Linked DNA regions of Homo sapiens: region 1 is linked to region 2. The links come from fine-mapping of genetic effects on gene expression. A gene starts in region 2. The other region holds a variant in brackets. All regions are shown on one strand. Distances are between the middles of the regions.

The links. PIP is the estimated chance that this variant, and not a neighbour inherited with it, causes the effect.
Region 1: its variant is fine-mapped to the expression of ABCB9 in cerebellar hemisphere (GTEx, PIP above 0.99). The same link has a PIP of 0.9 or more in cerebellum.

Annotation. Positions count from the first base shown.
Region 1 is chr12:122,935,107-122,939,490 of GRCh38, reverse strand. ABCB9 (ATP binding cassette subfamily B member 9) reads left to right here. Exons shown (of 12, transcript NM_019625.4): 10 at 4,060-4,219. Among named protein-coding and RNA genes, the nearest start is that of ABCB9, 29 kb to the left of the region's middle. The variant A/G (reference allele first, on the strand shown) is at 2,136.
Region 2 is chr12:122,963,963-122,968,346 of GRCh38, reverse strand. It overlaps ABCB9 (ATP binding cassette subfamily B member 9), which reads left to right and starts at 1,884. Exons shown (of 12, transcript NM_019625.4): 1 at 1,884-2,060. RefSeq lists a silencer at 1,576-1,865 and enhancers at 1,630-2,435, 2,436-3,243.

The sequences.
Region 1 (4,384 bases), 29 kb after region 2:
GTCCCTTCTCTTTCCCCAAGAAGTAATGTGTTGACTTTTAGAGTCTTCATGCTCTTGCTTTTCATTGGTTCTGCCATCTCTGTGTGCACCCCTGAGCTCTGTGCTGCCTGCTCGGAACTTCATCTGGGTAGAATCGTGATTGGTGTGTGGATTAGTTTGTGTCTTGTGTCTCCCACTCGACATTGTGAGTCATCCAGGTTGAGGCTGGGGACAGAGTTCATTCATTTTCATTGCTGGGTGGTAACCCACTATACATATGTTTATCACAATTATTTATGCATTCTGGGTATTTGGGTTGTTTCCCTTTATTTTTGTTTTTTGAGATGAGTCTTGCTCTGTTGCCCAAGCTGGAGTGCAGTGGTGAGATCTCAGCTCACTGCAGCCTCCGCCTCCCGGGTTCAAGCTATTCTCCTATCTCAGCCCCCCTAGTAGCTGGGATTACAGGAGTGCGTCACCATGCCTGACTAATTTTTGTATTTTTAGTACAGACAGGGTTTCACCGTGTTGCCCAGGCTGGTCTCGAACCCTTGACCTCAGGTGATCAGCCTGCCTTGGCCTCCCAAAGTGTTGGGTTTATAGGCGTGAGCCACCGTGCCTCGCTGGGTTGTTTCCCTTTATATTTTATTTTATTTATTTGTTTATTTTTATTTTTATTTTTTTTTGGAGACAGAGTCTCGCTCTGTCGCCCAGGCTGGAGTGCAGTGGCACGATCTCGGCTCATTGCAAGCTCCACCTCCCGGGTTCACGCCATTCTCCTGCCTCAGTCTCCTGAGTAGCTGGGACTACAGGTGCACACCACAACGCCTGGCTAATTTTTTGTATTTTTAGTAGAGACGGCATTTCACCATGTTAGCCAGGATGGTCTCGATCTCCTGACCTCGTGATCCACCCGCCTCGGCCTCCCAAAGTGCTGGGATTACAGGCATGAGCCACTGCACCTGGCCTATTTTTATTTTTTTGAGAAAGGGTCTCCCTCTGTTGCCCAGGCTGGAGTGCAGTGGCACAGTCACAACTTACTGCAGCCTCAGAGTCCTGTGCTCAAGTCATCCTCCCACCTCAGCCTCCCAAGTAGCTGGGACTGCAGGCACATGCCATTATGCCCAGCTAATTTTATTTTTTTGTAGAAATGTGGTCTCACCATGTTGCCCAGGCTGATCTCAAACACCTGGCCTCAAGTGATCCTCCTGCCTCAGCCTCCCAAAGTGCTGGGATGACAGGTGTGAGCCTCTGCCCCCGGCCTGTTTTTCAGTTTTGTTTTGTTTTGTTTTGTTTTACCATTACCAAAAATACCAGTGTGGGATGTGGACAATTTTGTCTATGTTTTCTGTTGTACATGAGTACGTTCTCCCAAGGTATAATCCTAAGAGTAGAAAGCTTGGTGATAGTGGATGTACATCCCCAACTGCCGTAGTTTCTGTCACAACAGCTATCCCCAGGTGGTTATACCAATTTACATTTTACAATTTACATTCTACTAGCAGTGAAGGAGAGTTTCAGCTGTTCCACATTTAGGTCATCTCCAGTACTCAAAATAGGCTATTCATGACTGGACAGTTTTTAGTAATCCTTTCAGGAAAGGAACCATAACACCTGTCCCTGTGCTGGCCTAAGAGCAGGGATGCCCTGGATGGTTGCTCAGGTTGTGCACTGTCCAAGAAATATAAACTATTAAGGGAGCACCGTTTACATCATCAACATAAATTATGTGAAAGCCTGAGTGTTGGCACAGAGATTCCAGAACTCCTAGCCAAGTTCGAGATGGTGGTGAGGGCCATGGGTTGTGAAATCTGCCCACACCATGTGCATGTAACCAGAGGTAGATTGTTGTGAAATGGTGCCAAGTGGGAGGCCACCAGGCTGCTGCTCACCAAAGTTTTAGAAGAGCCCCCTGGGCAGAGCCGTTCACACTTTGCAGTAGGTACCACGCTTCGATTCTCAGACACCTAACATTGTCAGTCCTGAATTTTTGCTAACTGGTGAGAATGTAGTGGTAGCTTATTGTGGTCTTTTGTGTTTTCCTGATGACTGAAGATATTAAACACCTTTTCATATATTGGCCATTTGGTTTTCCTTCATGAATAGCCTCTCTTAATTATTTATTTATGTACTTTTTCTTTTCTTTTTTTTTTTTTAAG[A/G]TGGAGTCTCGCTCTGTCGCACAGGCTAGAGTGCTGTGGCATGATCTCGGCTCACTGCAACTTCTTCCTCCTGGGTTCAAGCGATTCTCCTGCCTCAGCTTCCCAAGTAGCTGGGACTACAGGCACATACCACCACACCCGGCTAATTTTTTGTAGTTTTAGTAGAGACAAGGTTTCACCATGTTGGCCAGGCTGGTCTCGAACTCCTGACCTCAAGTGATCCACCCGCCTTGGCCTCCCAAAATGCTGGGAGTGAGCCATGGCGCCTGGACTATTTATGTACTTTTTGTTTGAGATAGGATCTCACTCTGTCACCCAGGCTGGAATGTGGTGGTGTGATCATGGTTCACTGCAGCCACGACCTCCTGGGCTCAAGCAATCCTCCCACATCAGCCTCCTGAGGGACTATAGGTGCACACCACCACATCTGGTCAATTTTTTTTTTTTTTTTGAGATGGAGTTTTGCTCTTGTTGCCCAGGCTGGAGTACAATGGCACGATCTCAGCTCACCACATCCTCCGCCTCGAGGGGTCAAGTGATTCTCCTGCCTCATCCTCTTGAGTAGCTGGGATTACAGGCATGCACCACCACACCCAGCTAATTTTTTATTTTTAGTAGAGACAGAGTTTCTCCATGTTGGTCAGGCTGGTCTCAAACTCTTGACCTCAGGTGATCCGCCCACCTCGGCCTCCCAAAGTGCTAGGATTACAGGCATGAGCCACCGTGTACACCTGGCCAATTTTTAATTATTTTGTAGAGACGGGTTCTCACTGTGTTGCTCAGGCTGATCTCAAACTCCTGGGCTCAAGCCATCCTCCCACCTTAGCCTCCCAAACTGTTGGTGTTACAGGTGTGAACCACCATGGCTGGCCTCTATTTTTAAATTTAAAATGTTAATTTCTATAAACATAAAACAATAAAATGCTACAAGCTAATCATATTCTCATAGTTGTAATGAATCTTGTAACTAAGACATGAATGTTCCCCTCCACCTTACCTTTTGAATTCCACCACATGGAGGTAGCCAGTGTTAACAGTTTAGTAAATATCCTTTTCAATGTGTTTCCTATCTTTATAGAAATATATCAATATATGAAGGTACACGTTTATAATTTTTTTAAACAAAAATAGAATCATGCTGTGTATATGTATCTATTACAATTCAGTTTTAAGGATGCACTGTCACTATTTAACCAATCCCCATTTATGGACACCTAGATTGTTTCCATTTTAATTTAATTAATTAACTAATTAACTTTTGCTACTTATGGTGTTGCAATGATATCTTCCATACTATATATTTTTTTCATTTTGTAGATATGGGGTCTTTCTGTGTTGCCCAGGCTGGTCTTGAACTCCTAGACTAAAGCCATTCTCCTGCCTCTGCCTCCCTAAGTGCTGGGATTACAGGCATGAGCCACCAGGCCTGGCCATACTATTATTTTTGTAGGCCCAGATTCCTGAAACTGGAATCTAGAGATGATAGCTCCTTTAAATTGTTCTCTTAGAAGGGAGGGGACCACCGCCAGGGCAGTCTGTGTGACCTGGAGCCCTGCTGTGGCCTCTTGCTTCCTGAGATGAGCAGACTCATTCACAGCAACATTCTATATTCTATCCCTCTTTCTTTTTTTCAGGACAGGGATGGCCAGTGAGCTTTCTCTTAGAGGTCAGGGAACTTGGCTTATCCCAGAGCAGCAAATGTAGCAGGCCCCAGTTTGCTGATTAGGGGAGGCTGAGGGCTTGTGGGTACAGGCGGGAGTCACTGTTGGGGAAGAAGAGAGGCAGCTCAGTGCAGTCACTGGGCCCTGATCAGGTTTCAGGCCTGAGACTGCTGGTGTCTCCAGGCCCCAGGCAGCAAGGCTGCTGGGGACAGCTGGATGAACACATTCCTGGCCTCTCATGCTCCATGCTCCCTCCTCCCCAGATCTCCCTGGTGAGCCAGGAGCCCGTGCTGTTCGCCCGCTCCATCACGGATAACATCTCCTACGGCCTGCCCACTGTGCCTTTCGAGATGGTGGTGGAGGCCGCACAGAAGGCCAATGCCCACGGCTTCATCATGGAACTCCAGGACGGCTACAGCACAGGTGTGGAGCTGGGGGTGGCCCCTCTCCTGGGCCCACAGGGTCACCCTCAGGGACATAACCCTCTGAGTTAAGCACTGCCCCCTGCCACCTGCTCTTTTTTTTGTAGAGATGGGGTCCCGCTACGTTACCCTGGCCAGACTCGAACCTCCTGCGCTCAAGCAATCT
Region 2 (4,384 bases):
TTACCCCATTTCTCTGATGAGAAAACAGGCTCAGATAGGCAAAGTCACCTCTTTAAGGTCACACAGCATAAATGACAGAGCCCAGCTCTGAGTGACTCCTGCTTTTTGGACAGTCCATCCAAGATATCGTCTTCAAGTACAATTAGATATTTGCCTTTGTTTTTGCACCAATAGTAACATGGTTCAACTTTATTCTCTCCTTGGTTTTTACTCAATACATTTAGGAGGTCATTCCATACCTTTATATAACTCTATGTCTTCTATTTTTTTTTTTCTGGCTACAGAGTATTCTGTTGAACAGGTGTTCTCTAATTATTTGGCCAGTTCCCTATGGAAGGGTATTTAGGTTATTTCCAGACTTTTGCTACTGTAGTAACTACCTTTAAGCTAGTACCTTAGCTCCCTTGCACAAGTCTATCTGTAGAGGAAATTCCTTCTGGGTTAAAAAAAAACATAGTGTTGTAAGTTCTGAACAAATTCCCCTCTAAAGAAGCTGTCCCACCAAGTAGCAGAGGACATTTCCAATTCAGAGAGTGCTCCAAAAAGCCTCTGTTCAGGGCTGGGCACACATGGCTCACGACTCTAATCCCAGCAGTTTGGAAGGCCAAGGAGGGCAGATCACTTGAGGTCAGGAGTTTGAGACCAGCCTGGCCAACATGGCTAAACCCCATCTCTACTAAAAATACAAAAATTAGCCAGGCGTGGTAGCGGACACCTGTAATCCCATCTACCTGGGAAGCTGAGGCAGGAGAATCACTTGAAGCTGGGAAGCAGAGGCTGCAGTGAGCTGAGAACTCGCCACTGCACTCCATCCTGGAGTCTCTGTCTCAGGAAAAAACAAAGCCTCTGATCAGAGGATCCAGGGATGTGGGCAGTTCTAGCCCCACCTGCTGCCCCTCTGGGCCGTAAGTCCACTCCCCCACCCACTTCCCACGGTTCAGGCCACATGGACCCTTTTCTGGTCCTCAAGTGGCCAAGTTGGTTCCCACCTCAGAGCCTTTGAACTTGCAGGCCTTAGCGTAGGATGTTCCTCCCTCCCCGTGGCTCACGCCTTCTCACCTTTCACTTACACAATTTTATTTATTTTACTGCATCCAGTACCTGAATGGCCTTATGCACTTACTTGCTGATGTTCTGTCCCCTTCACGCCATGAAGGCTGGGAGTTTTCTGTCTTTTCACACACAGCTGTGTTCCCAGCACCTGGCAGTCACTGAGGACATATCGCTGCCTCCCCTCTCCAATGCCCCGAATCCCTGATCTTGCACCAATTTTCTCCGTAAAATGTATTCCCTTCCAATATATCTCATTTGCTTATATGTGTTGTCTGACACCCTCACTAGAATGTCAGCTCCAGAAGGGCAAGGATCTTGTTTTGTTAATTGTTTAATTTCAAATGCTTAAAAGGGCATATGGCACGCCGTAGGCACTGGATAAATATCTGTTGGGTGAACGAATGAAAGAATAAGTGAATGAATGAGGACCATAACCCACCCTCCTGGACTGGCTGGCTGTCCCTCCAGGGAAAAAGGCCAGTTAAAAAGCTGGCCTCCTTCAGGTGAAACCATTTCCGTCCCCTCAGGATGGGCCCGTGGCTCCAGGTGGAGGCCAGCACGCAGTGTGGAGGGCCTGGTTGGCCAGATGTGGGAGGAGTTTGCCACAGGTGAGCAGGTGGCCAGCTGTGGCCCCGCCCCCAGGAGGCCCGTCCCCACCCGGAGGCTTCGCCAGCCCCCTCCTCGGGGGCCCCGCCCCGTCCAGGAAAGCCCGCCCACTCCTCCTGAGGCCCCGCCCCTCCCGGGAGGCTCCGCCGGTCCCTGCCCCAGGATCCCCGCCCCCTCCGTCACTGAGGCCCCGCCCCGTCCATCAGCCTGTCTCAACGCACGCCAGTCTCAGCTCCGACCTTGCAGCGGCGCAGCGCGGGTGGGAGGCGGGGAGGAGCAGCGGGAAGAGCGGAGCGAGGACCGCGTCCGGCGCAGTCTTCAATGAGCAGCGCGGAAACTGCACCCCAGACCCGAGCCTGCTGCGCGCCCCCTCCCAGAGCTCACCTGGTGCCAGGTAACAGGTAAGGGCAAGGCACCCTAGACCCCTGGTTTTGGGACCTTTCCAGGCCAGGGTGCCAGGCCAGGCACGCGTTGGGGGGCGTCTGGGCACCCCTGCCTCGGTGGGAATAGGCATCTCGGTTGAAGGTGGGAGCCTCCCTGGAGCCCTCCCGGAGCCCGCAGCCGCAGCTCCCAGCCCCCATCCCTGCAGCATCCTTTCCGCGCCCGTAGGGCGAATGTTGCCATTTTTTTTAACCCCCAAGGCGCCGCTGCCTCTTGGAAAATGTGGGAGGTGTTGGAGGATCCTGGGATGGCTGTCGTTCCCCCAGGACGGGGCTGGCGCGCCTTCTGAGGGCTCCCACTGTCCATGTCAGGGCTTCCCAGGGATCCTGAGCACCAGGGCTTTGGCAGAAGCCTGGGGGATCTGGCCTGTTCCTGCTGACCTGGGCAAAGCCCTTTTCTCAGTCTCCTCAGCAGGCCAGTGGGCTGCCGCTGCTCCCCGCCATCCACGCTGGCAGTGAGGCCTGTAGGTTCCCAGGGGAGCCTCTTTTATTTCTGGGCCTCTGGAAAAAAAAAAAAAGCCTCCTCCCCCGGCCTGACATTAACTGAGACAGCTTTAAGCTGGGCTGACAGGATCCCCGCCTCTGCCCATTCCCCTTTTCCGGATAGTGCAGGGCCGGGTGACAAGAGGAGGCTTGGAGGGAGGGCACCTCGCGCCTCTCTGCCTCTCCTAGAGCTGAGAGCACCTGAGACAGCTTCTCAAGTCCCAGAGTGAGGCTGGGCCCCACGTGGGCTGCCAGAGGCTCAGCAGGGATGAAATCAGGATGGACCCACGCAGACCCAGCCCGCTCCTGCCCCAGAGCCAGGGACCCCCACAGTCAGGCCCTCCCACCCAGCAGGCCTCTGTCAGTCAGTGCTTTGCTGCGCAGCGAATGGAATGGGCTTATCTGGGTCTGGGCCCACACCGGGGTAAAAAGCTCACCATGTCAGGGGTGAACCGAGGCCACTGGGCCACCCAAGTTCTTTGGCCCCTTTTCTTGCAATCCCTGAATAGCCTGGACAGGGGACCCCCGAGTCTCCATCCTGGAGACCCTGGATGCGGGTCTCCATCCTGCCTTCGTCCTTTTTCTGCGTGTCACTTAACCTCTTCTGTCTCCCCAGCTGTAAAACGAAGCTGATGACCACAGGGTCCTCCCAGGGAAGTGGGGAGGCCTGGCTGCTTTGGGAGGTGCCAGGCACATAGTAGGGCCCGGTGAAGGGTCTCTGTTGCAGTGTCATAATAACTTTTATCTATTGTCTCCTGGCCTTCTCTGCAAAGGGTCTCTGTTGCAGCGTCATAATAACTGCTATCTATCGTCTTCTGGCCTTCTCTGCAGCTGATGCCTAGAGATACCCCAACCAATGTCTCCTACCCTGGGAAGAAAAGCCTTTGACAAGACCCCTGGTGGGGACAAGGCCACTTGCTTATCCTGTGCCATTCTTTAGTGCACGGAGTCAGGGCGAGCCACCCCTGTCTTCCTGGGCCTTGTCCGGTTCTGGGTGGGGCCTATTCTGGCCACCACCTTGTCCTTGTCCCTCAGGCCAAGCAGGTCACCCATGTGCTCACAATTTGCCCTCCAGCTCCACCTGGCCGAGCCCAGCGCATCCTCTGAGTCAGGCAGTTGGAGAGCGGTGACAGGCCTCTAAGCAGCCTTGGCTGGTGGTCACGCTTCTGCCCAGTAGCTTTAAAAATAACGGAGTAACTGTCCCCACCGAGGACTGTAACCCGACCCGGGGCTGGAGTCCACTCTGCTAGGAGTCTGTGGTAGAAGGACTAGTGCTTGGGGGCAGGGACCCAGGTGCTAGCACTGCTCTGCCCCAGCCTGGTGGATGACCTGAGACAAGCCTCACCCCCTCCCTCTGTGGGCCTCAGTTTCCCCATCTGCAAAATGTGGCTTTGGTAGTCTGCGATATGAGTGTTTGAAATTTTGTTTATTCTGATGAAGATAAATAGGCTTCTGGAGGCGGGGGGCATGACTGGTACCCTGGGCTGTTGGGGGATGGGGAAGGAATTCCCCCAGAGGCTGGGAGTCAGGTTGGGAGAGTCAGCCAAGCCCCTGGGCTGCTGTCCAGGTTTTGAGTCTCTTGCGGATCTGCCTCCTGTTCCACTTCTGAGCCCGAGCCCCTTTCTGGGGACTGAGGGACCCCATGTGCCCACCACGAGGAGAGCAGCAGCTGAGGCGGCTGGCAGCACCTGGTGCAGCCGGCAGTGGCTTGGCTGGGAGGCCTGGAATGGCACCAGGCCAGGAGCTTCCCTCCCTGGGCTCTGACTGGAGCTCACCCACTCGCTCGCTCCCCACGGCCTCTG